Homo sapiens: one gene and its partners. The protein of the gene in region 4 purifies or fractionates together with the protein of the main gene of each other region. This does not show direct contact. Each region holds a gene or a part of one and is shown on either strand. Other genes may lie near its edges. The genes, in order: RAB11FIP4, SLC31A1, TBC1D1, ELFN2, TBC1D4, CTDSPL2 and SIGLECL1.

Region 1 (3,500 bases), on a different chromosome or scaffold from region 4:
CCCAGCTACTCGGGAGGCTGAGGTGAGAGAATCGCTTGAACCCCGGAGTTGGAGGTTGCAACGAGCCACTGCACTCCAGCCTGGGTGACAGAGTGAGACTCCGTCTCAAAAAAAAAAAGTGTCTGACAAAAAATTAGCTGAGCATGGTGGCATATACTTGCAGTGCCAGCTACTTGGGAGGCTGGGGCAGGAGGACGGTTTGAGCCCAAGAGCTCGAGGCTGCAGTGAGCCATGATGCACCCCTGAACTCCAGCCTGAGCTACAAAGCGAGAGCCTGTTTCAATTAAAAAAAAAAAAAAAGGCAGGGGCGTGTCTGATAAGATGGATGAGTCCCAGCAGACTTTCTGCATCTGGCCTCCTCCCAGCACAGCCAAACTGGTGGGCACAAGAGGCCAGAGGGTGCCCCAGCTAGGACTCGTCCTCCCGCCTCAATGCAGAGTGTGGTGCCACATGCCCATCCCCAGGCCCCAAGGGATCCCCAGCCCTGGCCCCACTTCCATGATGACCTCCAACCTCAGGAGCACAGTTTCCCAGAAGCATAGGAAAGAGAACATCTCTCTGGGCTCACTCTTGTCCTGCTTCCACCTCAGGTCCCAGGCACTCCCACCTTTTCTGCCAGGCTCAGGGCACCTGGGCCTTCCTTCTGATGTGCCAGCCTTGTCACTCTGCATGGTAGCCTCATTAGGGTGGGGCACATAGAGGTTGCCTGGTCTCAAAAGAGCACCTTTAACTATCACCTTTTGGGAGTAGCTCGTTGGGACTTTGCCGGCCTTCCAGGCCCCTGTCAATTCTGCACCCCCCGCCACTGCCCAAGTTAGGATGCTCTTCCTCTCTTACCATGTGCCACAGTCCCGAGGAGGCCTCCTGCCTCCAATCCTGCTCCCCATCCCCTGTTCTCTCATACACATCCACTCTTGGCTGCCTAGGTCTCACTGCCTACAGGGAACCACTGATCTGGCCCTACCTTCCCCTTCACCCCTTCCTCCAGCCACAGCTGTGGGGATACAGTTGTTTCTTCCCTGTTATCCAATTGCTACTCCTGAGCAGAGGAGCTTTAGTTCCAGGTGCTCCTGTTCCTGGAAGCCACGTATCTCAAAAGACATCGATCCCAGCCCCAGGGCTGGCTCCTGGCCGGTCTCAGCCCATCCTAGCACCCCAACCCCTTTGCCATTTCAAAGACCCAGGCTTAACCCAAGTGGCACTAGCAATTCCCCCATAGCAGGCATTAGCTCAGAGGGGACCTGAGGACTCAGGGAGCCCAGTGGGGACCATCATTTCATTTCCAAGCAGGCAGGACAGGCCCACTGTCCAGAGGAGATGGTGCTGTGTTAATGCATGGGAGAGGCCTACTTGGTGATTCTTATTTCTATTTTTCTAGCAAGAAGGACGGTCTTCAAACTGGAAAGGGAAGAGGACCATGTCACAGGGAAGTGTGGTCCAGGACATCTCTGGCTGCTTTCAATGTCTACCATTCTGACTGCCGAGGGGACGTAAGAGGGGCAGGAACACCACAGCTGGTTAAGGAGGGTGAGTTGAGCACACAGAGGCCGGTGCCAGATCTTGACCTCAATTCCTAGCAAATCTCCAGCCTAGAACAGCCTCTCAAAAATGCTTGCAAGTGTTTAGAAAATAATAATAATGACAAGGAGAGCACCAGCAATTCTGATATTATGCCTACTCTGTGCAGATACTGGACTAAGCCCTTTGTATGTATTAACTCACTCAAACCCCACAATAACCCTATAGAATGGGGACTCTGATCAGCCCCATTTGATGGATGAGTAAATAGAGGCCTAAAGAGGTTAGGGAGACAATGCAATATATCAGAAGGCAACACAGGGTCAGGATGTTGAGCCATCATGTTACATACTTATCAGAGTCCTGCTCCCTGGCATTGTAGACTTTCAGGATCAGGGCAGTGGTGTGCCCCCATCCCTCAAAAATCTGCATTTCTTTCTTTTCTTTTCTTTTCTTTTCTTTTTTTTTTTTTTGTGGCAGGGTCTCACTCTGTCACCCAGGCTAGAGTGCAGCGATGTAATCTCAGCTCACTGCAACCTCCGCCTCCCAGGTTGAAGCGATTCTCCTGCCTCAGTCTCCCAACTAGCTGGGATTACAGGTGCACGCCACTACACCGGGCTAATTTTTGTATTTTTTGTAGAGATGGGGGGTCTCACCATGTTACCCAGGCTGGTGTGGAACTCCTGAGCTCCAGTGATCCTCCCACCTCAGCCTCCCAAAGTGTTAGGATTACCGGCATGAGCCACCACGCCCGGCCCATTGTCTCCTCTTTTCTGCTGTGATACCTAGGTCAACAAAGTAGGGAACTATCAGGGACTAACCTAATCCATAAATAACATTATTAAGTAACATTCATACTTGATCCTGACTTCCTTAGTTTTTACCTAATGTCCTCTTCTTGATTCTAGGGTCCCATCCAGGACACCACACTGCATTTAGTCAGCTGCCTCCTTAGTCTCCACTTGGCTCTGACAGTGTCTCAAAATTTCCTTGTTTTGGATGACCTTGACAATTTTGAGAGGTCCTAATCAGGCATTTTGTAGAATGCCTCTCGGATGGGATTTGTCTGGCATTTTTCTCAGGACTAGACTGGGATTACTGGTTTGGGAGGAAGACCACAGAGGAAAAGTTCTATTCTCACCACATCACACCAAGGGTGTATGCCATCATCACAATCTGTCACTATCGATGTTGTCCTTGATCACCTTCTGAGACAGTGTTTGTTGGGTTTCTCCACTATACAGTTGCTGTTCCCCCCACTTTCCAAACTCTACCCTTTATAAGGAAGCCACTACGCACATCTCATGCTTACACGGTGGGACGTTATGCTTCACTTCCTCAATGGGGCAATTATCAACATACGTTATTCAGATTTCTTCTATACGAGAGATTTTCCTATTTATTTATTATCATCTGTTCAATAATTTATACATATATATATTTCATTATGGCCTCATGGATATTTATTTCATACTTTATGACCTAGTATATTTTGGTTTTTGCAAAGCATTTGATCCTGGTATCCCTGGTATTCTGGGGGTAGGTGGTAAACTGTGGACAATCAGCTCTAAGTTCACTGAACTACATATCTAATGAATGATCATTATCCATCCCAGAGCACAAGTGGCTGGGAAATCAATGTCACTGCCTGATTTTAAAACAAATAAAATAGAAACAGTCAGAGTACACTGCATTTCGTAAGGGAGCCCCCCCCCCCCGCCCCCCGCCACCCCACCGCTGGAAAACAACACTCCGATTTTTTAATGCATCAGGGGATAAGATGGGTAGTGAGTAGAGATGCAAAATATATTTCCACGGGTCTCGGTCAATACAGCATAAGCCGAAAACCACCCCTACAAGTGCCTCGGGGCCCTGTCCATGGTCCTGCCCTGCAATGTTTAACCAGCCTTGTGGATTCAGACACACCAAGCACTGCTTCTCCAGCCCGCAGGCAGCAGCACAGCTGAGAGTGATAGAGGTAG
Region 2 (2,725 bases), on a different chromosome or scaffold from region 4:
GAAGGTCACATGGATCTTCTGGCATGTACTAGGCATGTCATTTTAAGTCGAGTAGGGGGAGAGTGAGATGAAAACCTAAAAGGATCATACCACCTAAAATACGGACATCTTTTTTTTTTTTTTTTTTTGAGACGGAGTCTCGCTGTGTTGCCCAGGTGCAATCTTGGCTCACTGCAACCTCTGACTTCCGGGTTCACACCATTCTCCTGCCTCAGCCTCCCAAGTAGCTGGGACTACAGGCGCCCACCACCAGGCCTGGCTAATTTTTTAATATTTTTTTTAGTAGAGACGGGTTTCACCGTGTTAGCCAGGATGGTCTCGATCTCCTGACCTCATGATCCACCTGCCTCAGCCTCCCAAAGTGCTGGGATTACCAGGCGTGAGCCACCGCGCCCGGCCACAATATGGACATCTTAAAAACTGATGGTAATGGCCAGACTCTATGCAGACTATGAAAAGACTAGCTTATTGCATTATCACTCTGGGCAGAAAGACTTGCATAGAATCACAAAATCAAAATATTTATTTTGTTCTTTTTCATATGACACTGTTAAAACATTCCTACTACAGCAATACTGCTCTCCAGGAGCTTACAATCTAAAACAGTCAACATTAATTGTAGACCCAGTAATTAAGGCATTATATCAAATGCAGACTTTGTATCTTTTTTTTTTTTTTGAGACGGAGTTTTGCTCTTGTCGCCCAGGCTGGAGTGCAATGGCGCCATCTTGGCTCACTGCAACCTCCGCCTCCTGGGTTCAAGCGATTCTCCTGCCTCAGCCTCCCGAGTAGCTGGGATTACAGGCATGCACCACCACGCCCAGCTAATTTTTGTATTTTTAGTAGAGATGGGGTTTCACCACATTGGCCAGGCTGGTCTCAAACTCCTGACCTCAGGTGATCTGCACCCCCGCTTGGCCTCCCAAAGTGTGTGAGCCACTGTGCCCAGCCCAGAGTTTCTATCTTTTGATGTATCTTTTGAAGGAGCAGCTGGAGAGGGCAGGATCAAAATTAAATCACATGAAAGTGTACTCCCCTCCGCCTGCTCCTTATAAGGAACCCCTTATGACTAGAACCCAAGACCAGTACCCACAGCCTGAAAGGGAATTTCAGACAACCCTACCATAGAAGTAGTGAAGAAACCTTAATTTCTAATCTCCTAGTGGATACAGTGAGGATTCCATTTGTGGGCAATGGGGATGCTGGGAGTTCCTCCCTCACAGACTAGAGACGGCACCTAAGATTCTGTAACTCTGGGAAGGGTACCAGCCTTATAGAAATTCCAGTGGGTCAACTGCCTCTTGAAGCATGCTTAAAGTCTCTTAACAGGTTTATAAATGCCAATTTCTGGTTGGTATTATATCCACAGCATAGCACTGTCTACTGCATCAGGAGGGCTATGGAGACTTAATATACTAGACATGCGATTAAAAAAACTGAAAGAAAAGGGAAAGGACAACAGAGTAAGGGGGCCAAAGAAATGGTGATGCAGTCTTCTAATAGATGTGAATGGGGAAGGAAGAAAAGAGAAGTTTAGATCCAAAATGAACAAAGAAGTCAAGCATTAAATTCCAAATGAACAGGTATACAGAAATGAAAAGTTAATGAAATCATTGTATTATCACAATCCAAGAGCTCAAGATGGAATTTAAGCTTTTTCTCCTTCACTAGCTTCATCCTTTGGCAGCCAGTCTAAGAATCTCTGAAATTCAGGTTTTTCAGGAGATTATCTCTATCCTGAATACCTGAAGACCTAATCTAAACTGTTATTTCTTTCTGTGAATTTCAAAGTCATAGCATTTTGTCTTAACTGGCCTTGAATTTTCTTTTTTTCTGAGACAGGGTCTTGCTTTGTCACCCGGGCTGAGTGCAGTGGCGCAATCATGGCTTACTGCAGCCTCGACCTCCAGGGCTAAAGCAATCCTCCTGCCTCAGCCTCCCAAATAGCCAGGACTATAGGTATGCACCACCATGCCTGGCTAATTTTTGATTTTTTATAGAGATAGGATCTCACTATGTTGTCCAGGCTGGTCTCGAACTTCTGGACACAAGCCATCCTCCCACCTTGGCCTCCCAAAGTGTTGGGATTACAGGCATGAGCCATTGGGTCTAGCTGGCCTTACTGATTAGGTTTTGTTGCTGGGAGGGTATTCTATAGCAGCTCATGCTGAGATTTCTAGAGAGCACCAATGTCACTACTAACTATTGATTCCTATTTATTTCTCATGGTTTTATGACTCCTTGGCTTTAGACAACAGGCTGTATTATACCTTTGTGTTGGACTTCGTCAGTACCTGTCATTCACCCTGCTCATGTTAAGTATCATCATTACAAAGTGATGGAATGAGAGAAAAGCACAAAGCTCTAAATGTTGGTTCTTGGATTTTAACCTCAATCCAGTAGGCTCATAACCCTCTCTTGGTTCAAAGCCATACAAGTCCACATTCCTTGCTCTCCAATATTTAACTGGCACCCACAGAGAAAGTACAAACTTCAAAACCACAACACAGGCCAACAGGATAGCTGTGTTTTGTTTCCTCTGCCCTGAGGCACAACTGGATCTAGCACCAAGGAGGGCAGGATTTAACAGACCAGCACAAGACAAATCAATTTAAAGAGGTAGTTTGAACCAGGAATAAGACTGCAGTGTAGACTACAACTGAACAGAATACAAATCCAATGTGGTTCTTCACTGAGAACAGGGGTTTTGGCCACTTGTAATGTA
Region 3 (3,500 bases), on a different chromosome or scaffold from region 4:
AAAATCCAACAGTAAACATTCAAATAGTAAGATCTGATGCAGAACAAAGTCCTCAAATGTTAACTCCTATAAGTTACATCTAGCGGAACCACGAGGGATAAAGGCTGAACTCATCATCTTGGTTTATGATGGAAACCGCTATCCTCTGACCCAGGGAACAGGAGGAAGTCTCGAATGCCAGCCACCTGTTTAGGCACTGGTGGCAGCACTGTGGTCTCCTCGTGAAATGGCCGGGGAGACTCACAGTGAGTCTAAGTATGGCAATCTCTCCTTTTACCCCAGGATTAAGAGATGCCCCCCGCAACTGAGAGAATCAAAAGAAACTCCTATGGAATAGAAGACGTGGTTACAGTGATAAAGATCAGAAATGATTGTGTTGTCAAGGAAGTGACCTGTGACTGCACAGAACCCCATCTTTGTGAGAAAGCAACCCACTCTTAAGTGCACATCAGAGAGGCTTTACACAGTGACTGGCTGCAAGCAGGACAACCGTGAGCAGCATTTTGCTTGTTGAAGGCACAGGTCCTCGTCATCCTGAGAGAGGAGAGTCACTGTGTGCGACCTCTGAAAAACTGTCAGCTGTCATAAATCTGACTGCAGTTTCAGCCTGATCTTTTTTTTTTGAAAGTCCCAGACTCTTGGGGCACCCCTGAATATCTTGATGTGCCTACTCCTTCTGCAAGAAGTCAGATTTCCAAGGGATGGAGACTCAAAGGAACATGATTGCATTACATCACACAACAGGCAAAAATAAATACATGACTCTATAGTATGGGTATGAAACTACCACAAAGAAATATCTCAGACCCCACAACTGCAGCTCACATGCTAGCAATACCTGGTAGGGTCTAAAAGGTGTCAGCTGTCCCATAAAGCATTTACCTACTATGACTTTGATCAACTGTACTTATGGGATAAGCAAAAATGTATGAAAACACTCTATTTTTTTTTTAAAGACAAACTTCCTTAAATACCAAAGAGAGAGATCCATTTCACTTGACAGTGATCAGGATATCCAAATTAAATAAATCATTTTATTTAATTTGATGATCTTCAAATTCAATAAAGTGATCTTAAACATTCAAATAGTAAAATCTGATGTAGAACAAAGTCCTCAAATGTTAACTCCTTTAAGTTACATCTAGTGGAACCACGAGGGATAAAGGCTGAACTCATCATCTTGGTTTATGATGGAAACCGCTATCCTCTGAGCCAGGGATCAATGACCCAAGATCACTGATCTTCCCAATGATCATCTTAGGTTTCCATAACAAGAATGGGCGAGAGCCAACTGCACCTTGCCAGGGACGCTGAGGGTGTAGTCGCCACACAAACCCTCTCGGAAGAACGATGGACCCACGCCTTTGCCTGAGGCATGATCTCGAGCTCTTCCAGCTTTTGAAATTCCACCGTATTGTGAATGCTCTTTACAAACACAGTGACACTCAAAAAGGAACCAACAAGAAAACATAAGTTGCATTTATTCACGTCCACGCCATCTAAAGCTACTGTGTACAGTAATCAGGACTGGAGAAGGGACGATTTAGTATCTAAAAACAACAAAAAAAACACTGGGACATGCCCCCTGAATTGCAAGTTGGAGTTCGTAAGAATCTACTTGCTGGCAAGCCGGTTTCCTCCCTGAGAAGCACACTTCCCGCTTCCTTCTCTCCTTCCAGCGTCTTCTGTCCCTCTCAGTTAAGGCCTGGACAGTGTGGGATGGTGTTGCAATCTCTCCTGCAGAGCTGTCAGTCGCCCGTGGGCTCGGGCTGCGTGCACTCAGGCTCCCGGTCGCTGGGCTCTGCGCTCCGCCGCCGCAGCTCCTCCACCGTCTGCAGCAGGGCCGACCGCTCCAGTTCTAAGGTAAGCATGGCCTGCTTCAGCTTGCTCTCACTGCTCAGGAGCTTCTCAATGGTGGCCTCAAGGCTTTGGATCCTACCATTTGCCACCTGGAGAATAAAAGAAGAAATGAGAATACAATTGCCAGTGCTAACACAGGTGGGATCCAGTGCCCACACGCTGTCCAGCCTTGGGAGCACTCTGGAGCCGAGTTTCAGCAGGGATGAGTCTACAGTTTATCATCAGTTCTGGCCACACAGGAAGGCAACTCGCACCCCTTGCAGGTCGGTGGCCAGGCCCTTAAAAGCACCCTGAGAGCCCCCAGCATTTTCTTCTCCTGCTATGGCTGCTGTGGAAGCCGATGCTGAGATGGTGGATCACAACACAGAGGGAACCCAAACCCCCAGGCACCACCACCAGAGGGACAGCTTGGATAGGGCCAAAGAATGCTTCAGCAACACAAAGCTGAAGTGGGCGTCAGTGACACAAAGACTTCCGTTGTGCCAAGCCTCGGAGACTTGTAAGTTTGTTACTGCAGCAGAGCCTGGCCTGTTTTGATGAGCACATATACTTAAACGCACAAATCGATTTCGGGCTGACAAAAACTCAAAACAGTTTCCTCCTGAAGGCCCACGTGGTAACAATCCTCTAATCTGAAATTCTTTACAAACACAATGATACTCAAAAAGAAACCAACAAGAAAACCTAAGTTGCATTTATTCACGTCCACGCCATCTAAAGCTACTGTGTAAAGTTAGTGATGTCTAGAGGAACAAGACATCACTACGTCAAGAAACACAGGCATTTACCCCGGAACACATATGGAGTCCTTAGAAAGGCCAAGTGTTCTGCTAAGAGGTTTATGTGCCTGGTCTCACTGACTGTTCACTACGAGCCATGGAGACAAGCAATATCCTCTCTTCCACCCTACAGAGGAGGAATGAGGATCTCACTCAGTCTACATCCTCAGCACCTAGCACATAATTAATGCTAGTTAAATAGAACTTCCAGGTGTATCTTTCTAGCAACTGTCCCTCGTCTCTCTAATTTGCTCTGGCAGGCTTGCTTCCCAGGTGACAAGTGTGTTAGCTCTAGTGACATTAAAGGGTTCCCTAAGAAAACTGCAGAAACTCCAACATGTATGCTGATGTCCCTGAGGCCTTTCTGACCTGTTCCCCAGCTCACAGCTGCATCCTGGAGTGCTCTGTGACTTGGTCTATCTCACTAATCCAGTCCAGATTTGCCATGCTCCATTTTAGGTGGGAAAAATGGTATATATATACACATATATACACACACACACACACACACACACACACATATACACACACACGTATATATACACACACACATATATACACACACACACACATATATATACACACACACATATATATATATTTTTCATTTTTCAAACAAAGAAAATACTTTTTTGAATGTGACAACACTTGTGCCAGAAAATTCATGACTCGAAGTCTAGCTCTGGCTGGGCCACTAGAACACCCAAAATATGAAAAAGGGACCAAGAGCCTTAGTTTGTCAGCCTACTGGGCAAGGGGTGGTCCCACTTGGGGTATCTCTCTAAGCTGTACTCTCTGATCCTCAAAATCCACCCATCGTCAGGGCCTGGCTCAGGGCCTACCCTCATCACTTTGAAGCCC
Region 4 (3,500 bases):
GACACAGGCCATGGGGACAGGCAGGAAGTCCCCCATGACAGCTCCTCCCTGCAGCCCTCCAGGCATCACAGTGCACCGCTGCCCTTCTGCGGTGGGCAGGGGTCTCGGAGGACCAGAGAAGCTGGGGCCGGGAGCCTGCACCTGAGACGTCCTGGGAGCTGGCCTGCCCGCCACACGCCCCACTCTTCCCAGGCCACGTGGAAGACACTTGAAGTGGGCTGGTGGAATGTCGCCCTGCCTCGGCTCCTTTCCCGTCAACAGGACCCTCTCCCTTCTCCCGGGTGCCGGCATAGGGGTCAAAAGCCCCCCAGGATTCTGAATCACAGCTGCACACTCTGGGGGCACTGCCATGTGGCTTTCTAGGAAGAAAAAGCACCTGCCTGATTCCCAAGTCCCTCAGCCCCAAGGGACCACAGCTTCGGAAAGGGATGTGGGGTGGGCACAGGGCGGGCAGGGGTCCACAAGAGAGCTGCAGGGGGTTCCGGGACAGCACTGGGCTGGGAAGTTGGGGGACTTGAGGCTAAGCTGCTGTGTGACCCTGGGGTTGTCAACTCCCTTCTCTGGGCCTCAGTTTCCCCCCCTCTCTAAAGTGGAAGGAGACATTGCCCGATGTCTAATGCTAAATCTGCAGGTGACTTGACTCCCAGCTTGGGAAGGGACCCTCTCCCTGCCCTAGAGGGGCTTCAGTCCCTCTCTACTCCAGCTTTCTTGACCCCCACACCTGTTTCTAGCCCCAGACCCCCCAGACCCCACACCCTCTCTTGGCTTCCTTCCTCCCCCCGCCAGCCCCCCGGCCCTGCACACCCCAGCAGAGTCCCTGGGCAGCACAGTAAAGACGACTGGTTTCGGTATCAGTTTGTAAACTTTAAGGAAAATGTGTCTCTGTTTTCCTGTCCGTTATTGTCGGATGTTGGTTTGTTCACAGTCGGGTGGTGGTCAGGTGTGTGTGTGCGTGCGTGCGTGCGGGTCTGCATGTGCGTCCTCTCCTGGGCCTTGGCCCCCGAGTCTGCTCCCCGCCCTGGCCGCCTGGACCCTTCCCCCAAAAGGCCCCCAGCCCTCTGGCTCCGACCTCACCAGGGAGGAAGGGGGGGGTCACAGCTTCTGCTGGGCGGAGACCCCCTTCCAGTAATCAAGGATGTCATGCAGATCCTCGTCCTTGGCGAACTGGACCTTCTTGCGCAGGGCGTGACCGGCGGCCATGTACACCTCCTCCCGGTGGTGCTTCTTGTAGGGCCGGAAGCGCTCCCAGATCTTGTGCGTGCTCTCGGATGAGTACTCGGGGCTGGAGGAGTACCCTGAGTAGTAGTGTCTGGGGGAGAGCTGCGAGTAGGTGGAGTCACGCTTGGAGCGGGTCAGCGGCTTGAGGAAGGACACGCGCTGGCTCAGGCTGTCGGCACCCTCCTCGTAGTACAGGGCGGGAAAGCTGTGCCGGTGCTCGCTGCAGTGGTAGGCCGGCTTCACCTCCAGGTGGTGGATGCCCCCGCCCCCGCCGCTGCCCCCGCCGCTGCCCGCCGGCACCAGCGGGAGCCGGTCCAGCGGGCTGTTGAGGGGGCTGCCCTTCTCGATGTACTTGGAGTCGCCCTTAGCCAGCCCTGTGGCGGCCGGATGGTCGGGCACGTCCAGGCTAAAGACCTTGGCGCTCTTGATGGAACCACTGGACGACACGCTGCAGGTCTTGCGGGTCACGGCCGCGTCGGCGCTCAGCTGGCGCTGTAGTGGGTGGTGGGAGCTCTCCTTGTAGGGAGGCGAAAGGAAGCTGGGCCGCTCCAGGGCCCCGGGGCCAGTGGCTGAGGAGGCGGCAGCAGCTGCAGGGAGGGACTGGCACTCGAAGGCCAGCTCGGGGTCCCCACTGCTGCTGCCGCCTCCCAGAAAAGAGGCCGAGTCCAGCTTGAGAGCATCGATGCAGTTGTTAATGATCTGGTTGACCTTGTCCACCTCCTTGGCAATGGTGGAGATCTCTGCAGCCGAGCCCTGGCCGTTCTCGAGGTCCGGGAGGTCATCCTCGGGCCGAGCCAGACCGTCCCCGCCGGCGCCTGTGCGCACCTCGATATAGTTGCCTTTGGTGGCTACCTTGGGTGTGTCCAGCCCGGCCTCCAACCCCTTGGCGGTGGGCAGCTTCTCCCCGATCATGGAGGGGATGGAGGCCATGCGAGATACGGGCAGCACGGGAGGCTCGCCCAGCTTCTGGGCGGCGTGCACAATGGAGCCGGCATCCACATCAGCCCCGTAGCGCATCTCCAGGATGGTCTTCTTGACGTTGACAGACTTCTGCTTCTCCTCCTGCATGCGCCGCTTGCGCAGGCAGTAGTACACGGCTCCCAGCACGATAACCATGCCAAAGAGGCAGCCCAGGATGGTCATGATGTAGTGGGTGGTGGTGGAGGTGCTGGGCGCCAAGTCTCCGGGGACGGGGTCCCGCGTGGTGAAGGTCAGGCAGGTGTGGTTGAAGCGGCGGCTGTTGCGCAGCGAGGTCACGCAGAAGGTGTACTCAGTGTGCGCCCGCAGTTTGTCCAGCGTCACGATCTCCTTCTTGTTCTTGAGGGTCATGACGTCGGAGAAGTAGCTGTTGTTGTACTGCACGAGGATGTACATCTTGCTGTAGGGGTGTGGGATGATGACCACCAGGGTGGCCGAGGTGAACGTGACGTGGTGCAGCTTGATGGCTGGCCCTGCCGACGCATCCGTGGTGGACGAGGCCGGCGGCTCCACCGAAAGGATCTCGTCGGGGTTGAAGCCCGAGTTCTCGTCTGGCTCCCTCTGGGCGTCGGTGGAGTAGGGCGTGGGGTGGCTCACGGGCCGGGCGGGCAGCGAGCCATTCCGACACTTGGCCTGGAGTACGGTGATGGCGTTGAGGCTGTGGTAGGGCCGGGGCACCAGCAGCGGGTAGCCGGCAAACTCCCGCGGCGACTCACACTGCAGGCGGTCGTAGTTCTTGGTGACGTTGTTGAAGACCACCAGCCAGGCCAGGAAGCCGAAGAGGTCGCACTCACAGTTGAAGGGGTTGCCGGCCAGCTCACACACCATCAGGCTGGCGAGGCTGGCAAAGGTGGCACCGTCCAGGCGGCTGAGGCGGTTGGAGGACAGGTCGATGCTGATGAGGCTCGGGCACTCGGAGAAGGCGGTGGGCGTCACCACCTCGATGAGGTTGTGCTGGACAAAGAGGAACTGCAGGCGGCTCATGCCTCGCAGCATGCCCTCCGTCAGGTTGCTGAGCTTGTTGTAGCCCAGCTGCAGGACCTGCAGGCTCGACTGGCCCAGGAAGGCACCGTCCTCGATGTAGGAGATCTCGTTCTTGGTGAGGTTGAGGTCGGTGAGGTTCCCAAAGCGGTTGAGCGAGGAGTAGAGCACGGCTTTGAGCTTGTTCTCGTTGAGCCGCAGGTCGTGCACGGTGCTATTGATGTGCTGCGGGATGGTCTCGTAGGGCGGCTGGTTCTGGCTGCAGATGGCCAGCCACACGTAGCCCTTGTCGCCCTCAATGAGCCAGCAGTCGGCACGCACGG
Region 5 (3,500 bases), on a different chromosome or scaffold from region 4:
AAAGTGGTGGAACCAAGACACAGATATAAAACTTCTCACCCTAAATCCCGTGCTTTTCTCATTATATCACAGCTAATGAGTAATATAATGAGAGTGTCACATCATGGTAGAAGGACTAAATACTTCATGCCATCAGATGGTAGATTTCTTACTCCTAATCTGGTACTGTGAAAAAATAATTGGTGAAATAGTGACAAAATGGGTAAAAGTCAACATGGATATTAAGAGACTGTACTATTAAGCCTACAGTGCCTCCTTCTCAAAATGCTTAACTACTACATTAAGCAAAAAATAGTTAAAAGTGTTAGTCCTAAAGTTAGCAAGAAGATACAGTGTATTTTTATTGGATTACAAATATACATGAGAATACTCCAAGAGATGCATATTTTATATAAAAACATTCATATCACATCCATCAGTAAATGTCCTTAATTCTTAATTATCTGCGTCCAGTTGGAAAATTTTGTATTTTCTTGTGGCTCTCTCTCCCTTGCTATCTATGAGGGGGCCTGGAAAATAAAAGGGTAGAATGCAAATCTGTCAATGTGGTTGCTTATATTTTTCTTTCAAAAGTCTCCATTGAGAAAGTAAGTTGAAAAATGGTAACAATGTACTTACATAAATGTCTCCTAAATTATCTTTGTTGTCTGACTCTATTAGGAAGAATTATTTGTGTAGCAATTTTAAGTAGGTACAATCCAAACCATGCAGATCTTTTTTGTTTGGTTGTTTGTTTTTCTTTTTTTTTGTCAAAGTCTCACTCTGTGGCCCAGGCTAGAGTGCAGTGGCATGATGGCTCACTGCAAGCTCACTGCAAGCTCCGCCTCCCAGGTTCAAACTATTCTCCAGCCTCCTATAAGTAGCAATATATGCCTCTCCTACTCTCCTGAGTAGCTGAGATTACAGATGCACACCACCACGCCTGGCTAATTTTTGTATTTTCCCTAGAGATGGGGTTTCACCATGCAGATCTTGTAAAGCAGCGGTCTTCAACCTTCTTGACACCAGGGACTGGTTTCATGGAAGACAATCTTTCCACAGACTGGTGGCAGGGGATGGTTTCAGGATGATTCAATGATTCAAGCACATTTATTGTGCACTTTATTTCTATTATTATTATTATATCCTCACCATATTATTATTATATACTCACCATAATGTAGAATTAGTGGGAACCCTGACTGTTTTCCTGCAACTAGACGATCCCATCTGGGGATGATGGGAGACAGTGACAGATCATCAGGCATTCGATTCTCTTAAGGAACACAAAACATAGATCTCCTGCATGCACAGTTCACAATAGGGTTTGCGCTCCTATGAGAATCTAATGCCGTGGCTGATCTGACAGGAGTCAGAGCTCAGGCAGTCATGCTTGCTCGCATGCCCACCACTGCTGTGCAGCCTGGTTCATAACAGGCCACAGACAGGTACCCAGGGACCCCTGCAGTAAAAGACTCTAACCAAGAGCTGCTTCTCTCCCGAAAAGTAACAGTATACGTCAAGAAAGCTGCAGCAATATATTTATTGCAAAGGAACTAGACATTACATTAACCTGATGAAGATGTAACGATGCATGAAGCATAACTGGTGCAACATTTTTTAAAAATCACAAATGAAAAAGAAAATTCATTTTCAAAAGAAAATATTGTATCCAAGTCAGCTTAATCTCTGAACACCATAATATAACTCTTAATGTTGATTCTAAACATCCAGGATAAAGTTTACTTTAAACTGAATAAAAGAAAGAAAAGGTTTCTTTCCGAACTTCCCCAACAGATTCCTTGGCTACCATCGGTGCATCACACCCATAAAGTAATTGTCATCAACAGACCGTAAAAAGAAAAAACCCCTCCTACAAATAGAGAAATTCTCAGGAAATCCAAGCAACAAATCAATTAGTAGCCCCCAATTGAATGGGGCAGACAGAATCAGCATTTTCTAGAACTTAGAAGTTACATTAACTTTATTAATAAGATTTTATTGTCTTTTAAGAAACTGTATGGATTCAAGGGCACACTGAGCTATAACAAGTCATTATATACACACTGGGTAACAGTGCGGAGGGGGTTTCAGATGTTTGTCATCTGTTCATCAAAGCTTTCTGAAACCCCTAGAGCTTTACTATTCTACTCTATAATACATTTTCACTGTGTATAACAAACTCCCTTTGAAGAAAATTACCCCAGATAATCCATCTGTGAAAATACAAGTACTGCAAAAAGCAGTGAGGATAAATACTTTTTGGAAAGGCAAAAATGCTGCATCAACTTTCAGAGGCACTATCATAGAATCATCTCTGAAAAAGAGAACTGCAAATGTACTTTGAAAATTACTTTCCTTGCCTATACCCAGCATGCGTGAATGTCATCTAATGAGCTATTTGTAGGCTGAGGAAGTGAAGAGTTGAAATGCAGAATTGCAGGTTTTAGTTGAGCTGGTAACACTGGTACCACTTTCTTTTTTCCCTTCCAATGGATTTCAACAGTTTGTTCCTAAACATTTCACAGTTCTCAAAACTTTTCACATAAAAGGGGAAGATTATTAAAGCTTATTAGATTCTGTCAATTGGTCAAAAGAAAAAATGTATTTCAACACAGCTTGTCATCTTTGGAAAAAATCAATCATAATTACGTTTCCTTATACTGAATTTAAGGTAGAGAGACCTAAATTACAAGCACTCACAATTTGGTGGGAAAGTGGCAAATCCTTGTCATTTGGTGACTGTGGCACCAAATAAAGAGGAATTCATTCACAACTGAATGAGTTATTCAAATAAAAAAAGCAGAAAGCTAATCTAGACATTTTAGGTCCTAAATTAAATTTTTCAGGTGTGATATTTTTAGTTTGAGTAATAATGCTGGTCTAGTTTGCTAAAAAATTAGCAACATTCTCCTTTACCTTGAGCTGGGTAGACTCAGCCACAATGTCCTACTGTCTCTTTATGTATGTTTAAAGTAATGCCTAACCAGACTCATAATGCATGTAGATGCAACATGCTAGTTGGCACAAAGCAGGCAGGGAGAAATGACCCTACCTTCCCAAAAAACTCACAGGAGCATGACCAGTAATCATTTTCCTCATATAGACAATGTCAGTAGATATCAAGACAGATACACATAAAGTTACATAAATGTTTCCACCTTTTCACCATTGAGTGAAACATGCTGTTCTTTGGAGAAAAAAATACATTCATTTTTTTCAAGTATATTGCAATATACAAAGATGCTCTGGCTTTGTTTCACTATAAAGACAAAAAGATTTCACATATGTCCAAGGGAAATTTCAGTTTACCTTTCCTTTGGTGTGGATTTCATGAAGTTCTGACTAAAAAAATTAATCTAAATATACATCTACTCATTTTATCTGAAAGCATGAACTATGTTCATTTTATATATATATTTATATGTACATAGCAACAACAAAAACCAGTCTACATATGTCCAATGGCTTAGGATTGGCATGCTCTGATGAGCACGAGGTCCACCTGCTGTGACTAGGCG
Region 6 (3,500 bases), on a different chromosome or scaffold from region 4:
TCACTATGTTGCCTAGTATGACCTCAAATTCCTAGGCTCAATCAATCCTCCTGCCTCAGACTCTAAAGTAGCTGGCACTACAGGCGCCTATGATGGCACCTGTGACCTGGCTCACAGTTGACTTTATAAGTCAGTACACACAAAGCAAAGACATTTAAAAATATTTATTTCAATATAGTTGAGCTAACAAAAACACAACAGAAAAAGATAAGCTACACTTACCAGTTCTACAAGCTTCTCCAGGAATGGAATCAATTTTAGGAGTTCATTGTCATTTTTATCCATAAACCAACTTTCTATAGGGATTCCATTAGAAAGCTAAAACAATAAATAAGTAATTAAATCCTCTTTTACTTATATTTTACCTAGTTTGGAAAAAGTTAAAAAATAAACAAAGATTTATTAAGTAAACACTGATCTAAAAGTTCCTTTGAAAAGTAATGTCACCAGACTTTTCTTTGACAACTCAATAGTGCAAGAGACAGAGGATAAGGAAATAAATTGAAGCCTATTGGTTTTTCAGTGTCATTTCTTCTCAGAGTATATAAAACTAAACAAGAAAGTTCCATTAAAATACATTTTATAAGGATCATTAATATAAATAAAATATTCCATTATTCCTTCAAGAAATAGTTACAATTAGTACAATGCTAGGTAGGCACTGTGAATGATGGGACACTGCCAATCTAAAGAGAATATAGAAAAGCCTATACTTTTTTTTCCCCTTAAATACAGTGACCATATCTCCCATTCATTATTCTATTCCCATCGAGTAGGATGATAACTTGAAATATAGTAGAAACTTAACAAATTAATGGTATTTCATTGAAGAGGAGCCTAAAAACAAGAATGCAAGCCATATTTATTTTATGGTGAATAATCTCTGGGATAAAATGTTTTAAAATTTAGGCTAAATGTTGTATATGAGATGGAGGATAATTGATATAATTTTAACTAGGAACCAAGATGAAATTCTTAAAAGACATTTTTAAATGTAAACAAATAAAAGTAAGGACCTAAATATAACTTAGTATCATATACAGCTTTTCACTTGTTTTCTTTTTATTATAGACATTTTGAAACACAGGACAAATCTAGTTTATACTCCAATCCACTTTGCATCATCCCTATTCTGGACTGGCTTATTGTGAAGCAAATCTAAGAAATCCTATCACATGGGGCTGGGTGTGGTAGCTCACAACTGTAATCCCAGCACTTTGGGAGGCTGAGACAGGTGGGATCACCTGAGGTCAGAAGTTCGAGACCAGCCTGGCCAACACAGCAAAACCCCGTCTCTACTAATAATACAAAAAAATTAGCACGGCATAGTGGCGCGCACCTGTAGTGCCAGCTACTAAGGAGGTGGAGGCAGGAGAATCACGAACCCGGGAGGTGGAGGCTGCAGTGAGCTGAGATCGTGCCACTGCACTCCAGCCTGGGCGACGAGCAAAACTCCGTCTCAAAAAAAAAAAAAGGAAAACAAAAAAAAGAAAAAAGAAATCATATCACATGGACATATTCATAATCTAAAATATACCTTGAAAGGATGACTCATCAGGCAGGCGCAGTGGCTCACACCTGTAATCCCACCACTTTGGGAGGCTGAGGCAGGCGATCACCTGAGGTCGGGAGTTCGAGACCAGCCTGACCAACATGGAGAAACCCCGTCTCTACTAAAAATACAAAATTAGCCAGGCGTGGTGGCAGACACCTGTAATCCCAGCTACTCGGGAGGTTGAGGCAGGAGAATCGCTTGAACCCAGGAGGCGGAGGTTGCAGTGAGCCAAGATCACGCCATTGCACTCCACTCCAGTTTGGGCAACAAGAGTGAAACTGCTTCTCAAAAAACAAAAACAAAAAAAAACAAAAAAACAAAAGGAAGGAAGGATGACTCATCTACATTTGTAGTTATACGTCAAAGAAATATTAACAAAGGGTACAAATATATTGACAAAATAGTCTAAGAAAATATTTCAGAACATTAAACCAAATAACCAGACCAGAAGAACATAAACTAACTATAGTACTCAAATATGTTTATGATTAAATTACTAATTACTGATTTAATAACTGATAAGAATGCTATTCAATGATGCTTATCTTATAGTTTTCTTACTCAGGTTTTTCTTCATTTATGCTGCATGTCATTTAAGTAAAAATTTTCCAAAAGGAATATACCACTTTGTCATTTCTAATTCTAAAAAAATGACACATTAAAGGGAAATTCCACCAGTGAAAATTCTCTTCTTCTTCTCCCATCATATTCTGTTTGGCAGCATGTGTCTTCATTGTATTTTTTCCAATCTGAGTTTGTTTATCAACTTTCTTCCTACCTGATATGCAAAGGCTTGTGGTGAGTTGTCAATTATTATAGTTTTTGAAAGATCTCTTCCAAGAATATTTAAGTCCTTTATATAGTTTCCTTGTACACAAACACAATGTTCACGGAAAAGCCGGTGCCTAAACATAAAAATAAAAACAAATTAAAAAAAAAAAACTTTCTAAAAAGTAGAACATATACACATATATATACACCATAGGCTTTATAGTTTAAGCCATATGATTTTCTCTCTTGAAGGAAATTCAAACACAAATATGGGTCTAAGCGTTGGGCTGCCATTTTACTATAAAAATTCTAAGCAATTACTGAAAGCTTACAACCAAATATTACTATGCCTTAAAGAACTTGAGTTTATCCCAAAATGTTATTATTAAATTATAAAGGGGGATTAAAAACTCTAAATTGTTTTTGTAATTTATTTACCCAAGAAAGCTCAGCTCAGATGCAGCATCTGGTTGTCAGCGAGGTCCTGCTTTTTAACCAATTTTCCAGATGGTTGACTGAGGAACAAGGAGGTCAAGTGACTTGCCCAAGGTCACACAGTAAGTCAGTGGTTAGCCCCGCATTGGAACCCAGGATCCTCCTGGCTCCCAGTCCTTGGCTCTAACCAGTGGACCACACAGCCTCCCTATCCCTGTACATGCCAGAATAGAAAATATAAGAAGGAATGTTTTTGTGTTGGCATTTGAAAAAATGCTTTTTAGATTTCCTTATTTTTTTTGAGAAAAGGTCCTAAGACCAAAACATTCCATCATTTCAACTTTTCCTAAACACCCCTCTTTTAGTATATGTGTATGATCATTTGAAAAAAGATTAAGTGAAATGAGGAATTCAGATTTAAGTATCAAGTATTATAAATGTAAACTGATATTTCACTCACATAGAAAAATACTACATCATTTTAGAAAGCTATTAAAGGTTTTACAATACTAAAGTGATTATTATAATCTCAATTTATACTCAAAATACTAGTCTCTGAACATTACTAATAATTGTTTCATATAATTTTTTTCTACCTTGAAGTACTCTATTCTGTATATATTAATAATTGGTAAGTTGTCTTCCTTGTGTCTTAATCACACTAACAATTTTACAAAATCTAGGACCTATTTGGACCTGTATTTTAAATTATGCAATTTCAAGAAACTGGTATTTTCTA
Region 7 (3,500 bases), on a different chromosome or scaffold from region 4:
TTTTTGGACTATGTTAGTAGGCAAACACAAATTTTAAATATATACTTTATTCCTGTTAATGTCAGCTTATCATTAGGAGATATGCCATTCTATCTTTGGTAATGCCTTTTGCTTAAAGTCTGCTTTATGGGATGTTAATGTAGGTATGTCTACATTACCTGGCTTTCTGGTTGGTATTTGCTTGGTGTATGTTTTCATTCTTTGGTTTTTTCTTTTTTTCTTTTTTTGAGACGGAGTCTTGCTCTGTCGCCCAGGCTGGAGTGCAGTGGCATGATCTCGGCTCACTGCAAGCTCTGCCTCCCAGGTTCATGCCATTCTCCTGCCTCGGCCTCCTGAGTAGCTGGGATTACAGGGGCCCGCCACCACACCCAGCTAATTTTTTGTATTTTTAGTAGAGACGGGGTTTCACCGTGTTAGCCAGGATGGTCTGGATCTCCTGACCTCGTGATCCGCCCGTCTCGGCCTCCCAAAGTGCTGGGATTACAGGCATGAGCCACCGCTCCCGGCCCATTTGGTTTTTTAACTGTCCTTTACACTTATGCTTTGGTTGTGTCTTTTGTAAACAGCATGGAGTTTGGCTTTGCTTCTTTTTTCCAATATGATGATCTTAGATTCATAACTGGATAATTTAAGCCATTTATATTTAGTTAAATCACTGATGTATTGGAGTTTAAATCTAACATCTAGGTACATGATTTCTACTTGTCCCAACCGTTCTATTCTCTTTTGTATCCCTTCTGTTTGTTTCTCTGTCTTTATTTTCAAACAAGCTTTTAAATCAAAGTACAATTTTATACAGAGAAGTATTAATACAGATAGTAAGTATACAACTCAAATTATCACAAAGGGAGCAGACCAGTGTAACCACCACTGAGGTCAAGAAATAGAACATTAACAACACCCCAAACACTCCACTCATGTACTACACCATTCATTACCCCCTTTATCCTTGCTATGTTCTGGATGCAAGCACGTTGTATGTGTTGCAAGTATGTTCTCCAGCCCTGCAACTTGCATTTGTCCTCCTTAATGGTATCTTTTGATGCAGAAATTAATTCTGATACAGTCCATTTTATCCATATTTCCTCATAGCTAGTGCTTTTTGGCCCTTTTAAAGAAATATTTCCTTACCTAAAACTTACCAAGATACTCTCCTATGTTGTATTAAAGAATTCCACTGACCAATGTGGTAGCTACTAACTACATATGGCTATTGAGCCCTTATATTATGGCTAGTCTGAATTGAAGTGTGCTGTAAGTGTAAAATATATACAAGATTTTGAAGAGTGTATAAAGAATGTACCAAATCTTAACAATTTTGTGTTGATTGCATGTTGAAATATTGGGTTAGGTTCAATATGAATAACCTAGTGAATAACCTAGGTTTCTTTCACTAGGTTAAATGAAACATCATTAAAATTAATTTTACCCATTTCTTCCTTTTTAATGTGGCTGCTAGAAAATTTAAAATTATACATGTAGTCCACATTTATAGGTCACATTATATTTCTTCACACAGCACTGTTCTAGAAAAAAAGTCTAAGGACTTTCCCAATGTCCCTAGAAGTTATTTTTATGTATGACATGAGGTAGGGGTCTTATTTCCTTTTGCTGTATGGCTGTCCAGTTATTCTGACACAATTTATTCAAAAGAGAGTCCTTTAACTTCTATGCAGTGCCATATTTATCCTAAACCAAGTGATCACATATGTATAGGTATTTTTCTAACCATATAGCCTGTCCCATTGGTATTTTTATTTATCCTTGTGTCAATACCATACTCTATGAATTACTATGTATGTATGTATGTATTTTATTTATTTACTTATTTATTTTGAGATAAAGTCTTACTCTGTAGCCCAAAGCTACAGTGCAGTGGCGTGATCACGGCTGACTGCAGCCTTGACCTCCCTACCTCAGGTGATCCTCCCACCTTAACCTTTCAAGTAGCTGGGACTACAGGTGCGTACCACCACACCCAGATAATTTTTGTATTTTTTGTAGAAACGGGGTTTTACCATGTTGCCCACGCTGGAATTACTATGGATTTTTAAGTCATGATATCCAGTAGGAATTGGAATTGATCATTTTTTTGAGACAGGGTCTCGTGCTGTCTCTTTTTTAATAGAAATTTACTGAGAACAAATTTATTAAATAAATGTCTACATGGGATATAAAAGGGAACATTGTGCCATGCTATACAATGTTACTTACACCATTCATTTCAAATTTTATGGCAAAACAATTATACTGTGGTAGGGAGATGTTGTTTTACACTTCTCACCAAACTAAACATTATCATATTTTTCCTGAGAGAATGTCAACACTTTGCTATCTTAAGTGATCACACCACTGCAATCCAGACTGGGTGACAGAGAGAGAGAAAGACCCTGTCTCAAAAACAAAAACAAACCGGGCATAGTGGCTTATGCCTGTAATCTCAGCTGTTTGGGAGGCCAAGGCGGGTCAGGTGTTTGAGACCAGCCTGGCCAACATGGTGAAACCTCATCTCTACTAAAACTACAAAAATTATTTGGCCATGGTGGTGAATACCTGTAATTCCAGCTACTCGGGAGGCTAAGGCAGAAGAGTCGCTTGAACATGGGAGATGGAGATTGCAGTGAGCCGAGATCGAGCCACTGCACTCCAGCCTGGGCGACAGAGTAAGATTCCATCTCAAAAAACAAAAATAAAACAAAGAATAAAGCAGACATGACACTGAGGCTTCACAGACAATCTTAGTTGCCTCCCTGTCCGTACGTGCTCATGAGCCTCTCATCCCATATAATTCCTGCTTCTCCAGGTGAACAGGCCTTCACGATGACCAGAGACAGAAGCCCCTGACTTGGCTAAAGATACTTCTGCTCTCCCCATCCCCACATCCTCTTTCAGTTACGCATCACCTCACTCCTTCTGAACCATATGGTTCTGATGTCAGAGCCAGTGTAGTAAAGAGCTTCTGCTGTTCCTGAGAACTGTTGCTGCTGGAAGTGATGCTTCCACTGCTACAGCTGGGTAAGTAAGGTGAGAAGCAGCACTGGAGGTGTGTTTGGAAGCCAAGACTCCAGGGCCTGGGTGTTGGCAGGGCAGAGGATGGGCTATGGAGGCATGGAGAAAGAGGACATATGGGCATAAGTACCAAATAATCAACATGAATTAGACAGCTTCTGTGTGTCAGATTTTGACAGGGCTGGTGTGTCTGAAGCAAATAGCAAATTGGGCAAGGGAGAGGGATGGAGAGTGTAGGTGCTATGAAGGCATGAGAGCACTAGGAGCTGTTTCAGACATTACTGGAAGCCCTGAAGTTAAGTTTTTCAGTGTTTCTGTGGGCACACTTTGCCAGGTGGAAAAGACAATTCAGAGGACAGCCATAGAGGGGTCCGTACATGAGAGTCCCCCGCAGATTCCTCAACAGCGCCCCGCAAGTGACTCAGGTGAAGAGACCGAGATCAGGAGCTACTGGTTAGGGGAAAATTACCCCTTTCTTCCAGTAACCTCAA

The links.
Region 1: the proteins of ELFN2 (region 4) and RAB11FIP4 purify together in Homo sapiens (affinity purification with mass spectrometry; one large-scale study listed by BioGRID and IntAct). This does not show direct contact.
Region 2: the proteins of ELFN2 (region 4) and SLC31A1 purify together in Homo sapiens (co-immunoprecipitation; one large-scale study listed by IntAct). This does not show direct contact.
Region 3: the proteins of ELFN2 (region 4) and TBC1D1 purify together in Homo sapiens (affinity purification with mass spectrometry; one large-scale study listed by BioGRID and IntAct). This does not show direct contact.
Region 5: the proteins of ELFN2 (region 4) and TBC1D4 purify together in Homo sapiens (affinity purification with mass spectrometry; one large-scale study listed by BioGRID and IntAct). This does not show direct contact.
Region 6: the proteins of ELFN2 (region 4) and CTDSPL2 purify together in Homo sapiens (affinity purification with mass spectrometry; one large-scale study listed by BioGRID and IntAct). This does not show direct contact.
Region 7: the proteins of ELFN2 (region 4) and SIGLECL1 purify together in Homo sapiens (co-immunoprecipitation; one large-scale study listed by IntAct). This does not show direct contact.

Annotation. Positions count from the first base shown.
Region 1 is NC_000017.11:31,394,675-31,398,174, reverse strand, and holds part of RAB11FIP4 (rab11 family-interacting protein 4), read right to left. Parts: intron 1-3,500. UniProt on the Homo sapiens protein: Acts as a regulator of endocytic traffic by participating in membrane delivery. Required for the abscission step in cytokinesis, possibly by acting as an 'address tag' delivering recycling endosome membranes to the cleavage furrow during late cytokinesis.
Region 2 is NC_000009.12:113,262,268-113,264,992, reverse strand, and holds the end of SLC31A1 (high affinity copper uptake protein 1), read right to left. Parts: 3' UTR 501-2,725; downstream 1-500.
Region 3 is NC_000004.12:38,135,584-38,139,083, reverse strand, and holds part of TBC1D1 (TBC1 domain family member 1), read right to left. Parts: intron 1,950-3,500; coding exon 1,749-1,949; 3' UTR 1-1,748. UniProt on the Homo sapiens protein: May act as a GTPase-activating protein for Rab family protein(s). May play a role in the cell cycle and differentiation of various tissues.
Region 4 is NC_000022.11:37,371,980-37,375,479, forward strand, and holds part of ELFN2 (protein phosphatase 1 regulatory subunit 29 precursor), read right to left. Parts: coding exon 1,093-3,500; 3' UTR 1-1,092. UniProt on the Homo sapiens protein: Inhibits phosphatase activity of protein phosphatase 1 (PP1) complexes.
Region 5 is NC_000013.11:75,283,170-75,286,669, forward strand, and holds the end of TBC1D4 (TBC1 domain family member 4), read right to left. Parts: 3' UTR 334-3,500; downstream 1-333.
Region 6 is NC_000015.10:44,518,129-44,521,628, reverse strand, and holds part of CTDSPL2 (CTD small phosphatase-like protein 2), read right to left. Parts: intron 2,461-3,500; coding exon 2,334-2,460; intron 319-2,333; coding exon 223-318; intron 1-222. UniProt on the Homo sapiens protein: Probable phosphatase.
Region 7 is NC_000019.10:51,261,080-51,264,579, forward strand, and holds part of SIGLECL1 (SIGLEC family-like protein 1), read left to right. Parts: intron 1-2,803; 5' UTR 2,804-2,993; coding exon 2,994-3,015; exon of another isoform or gene 3,016-3,098; intron 3,099-3,500.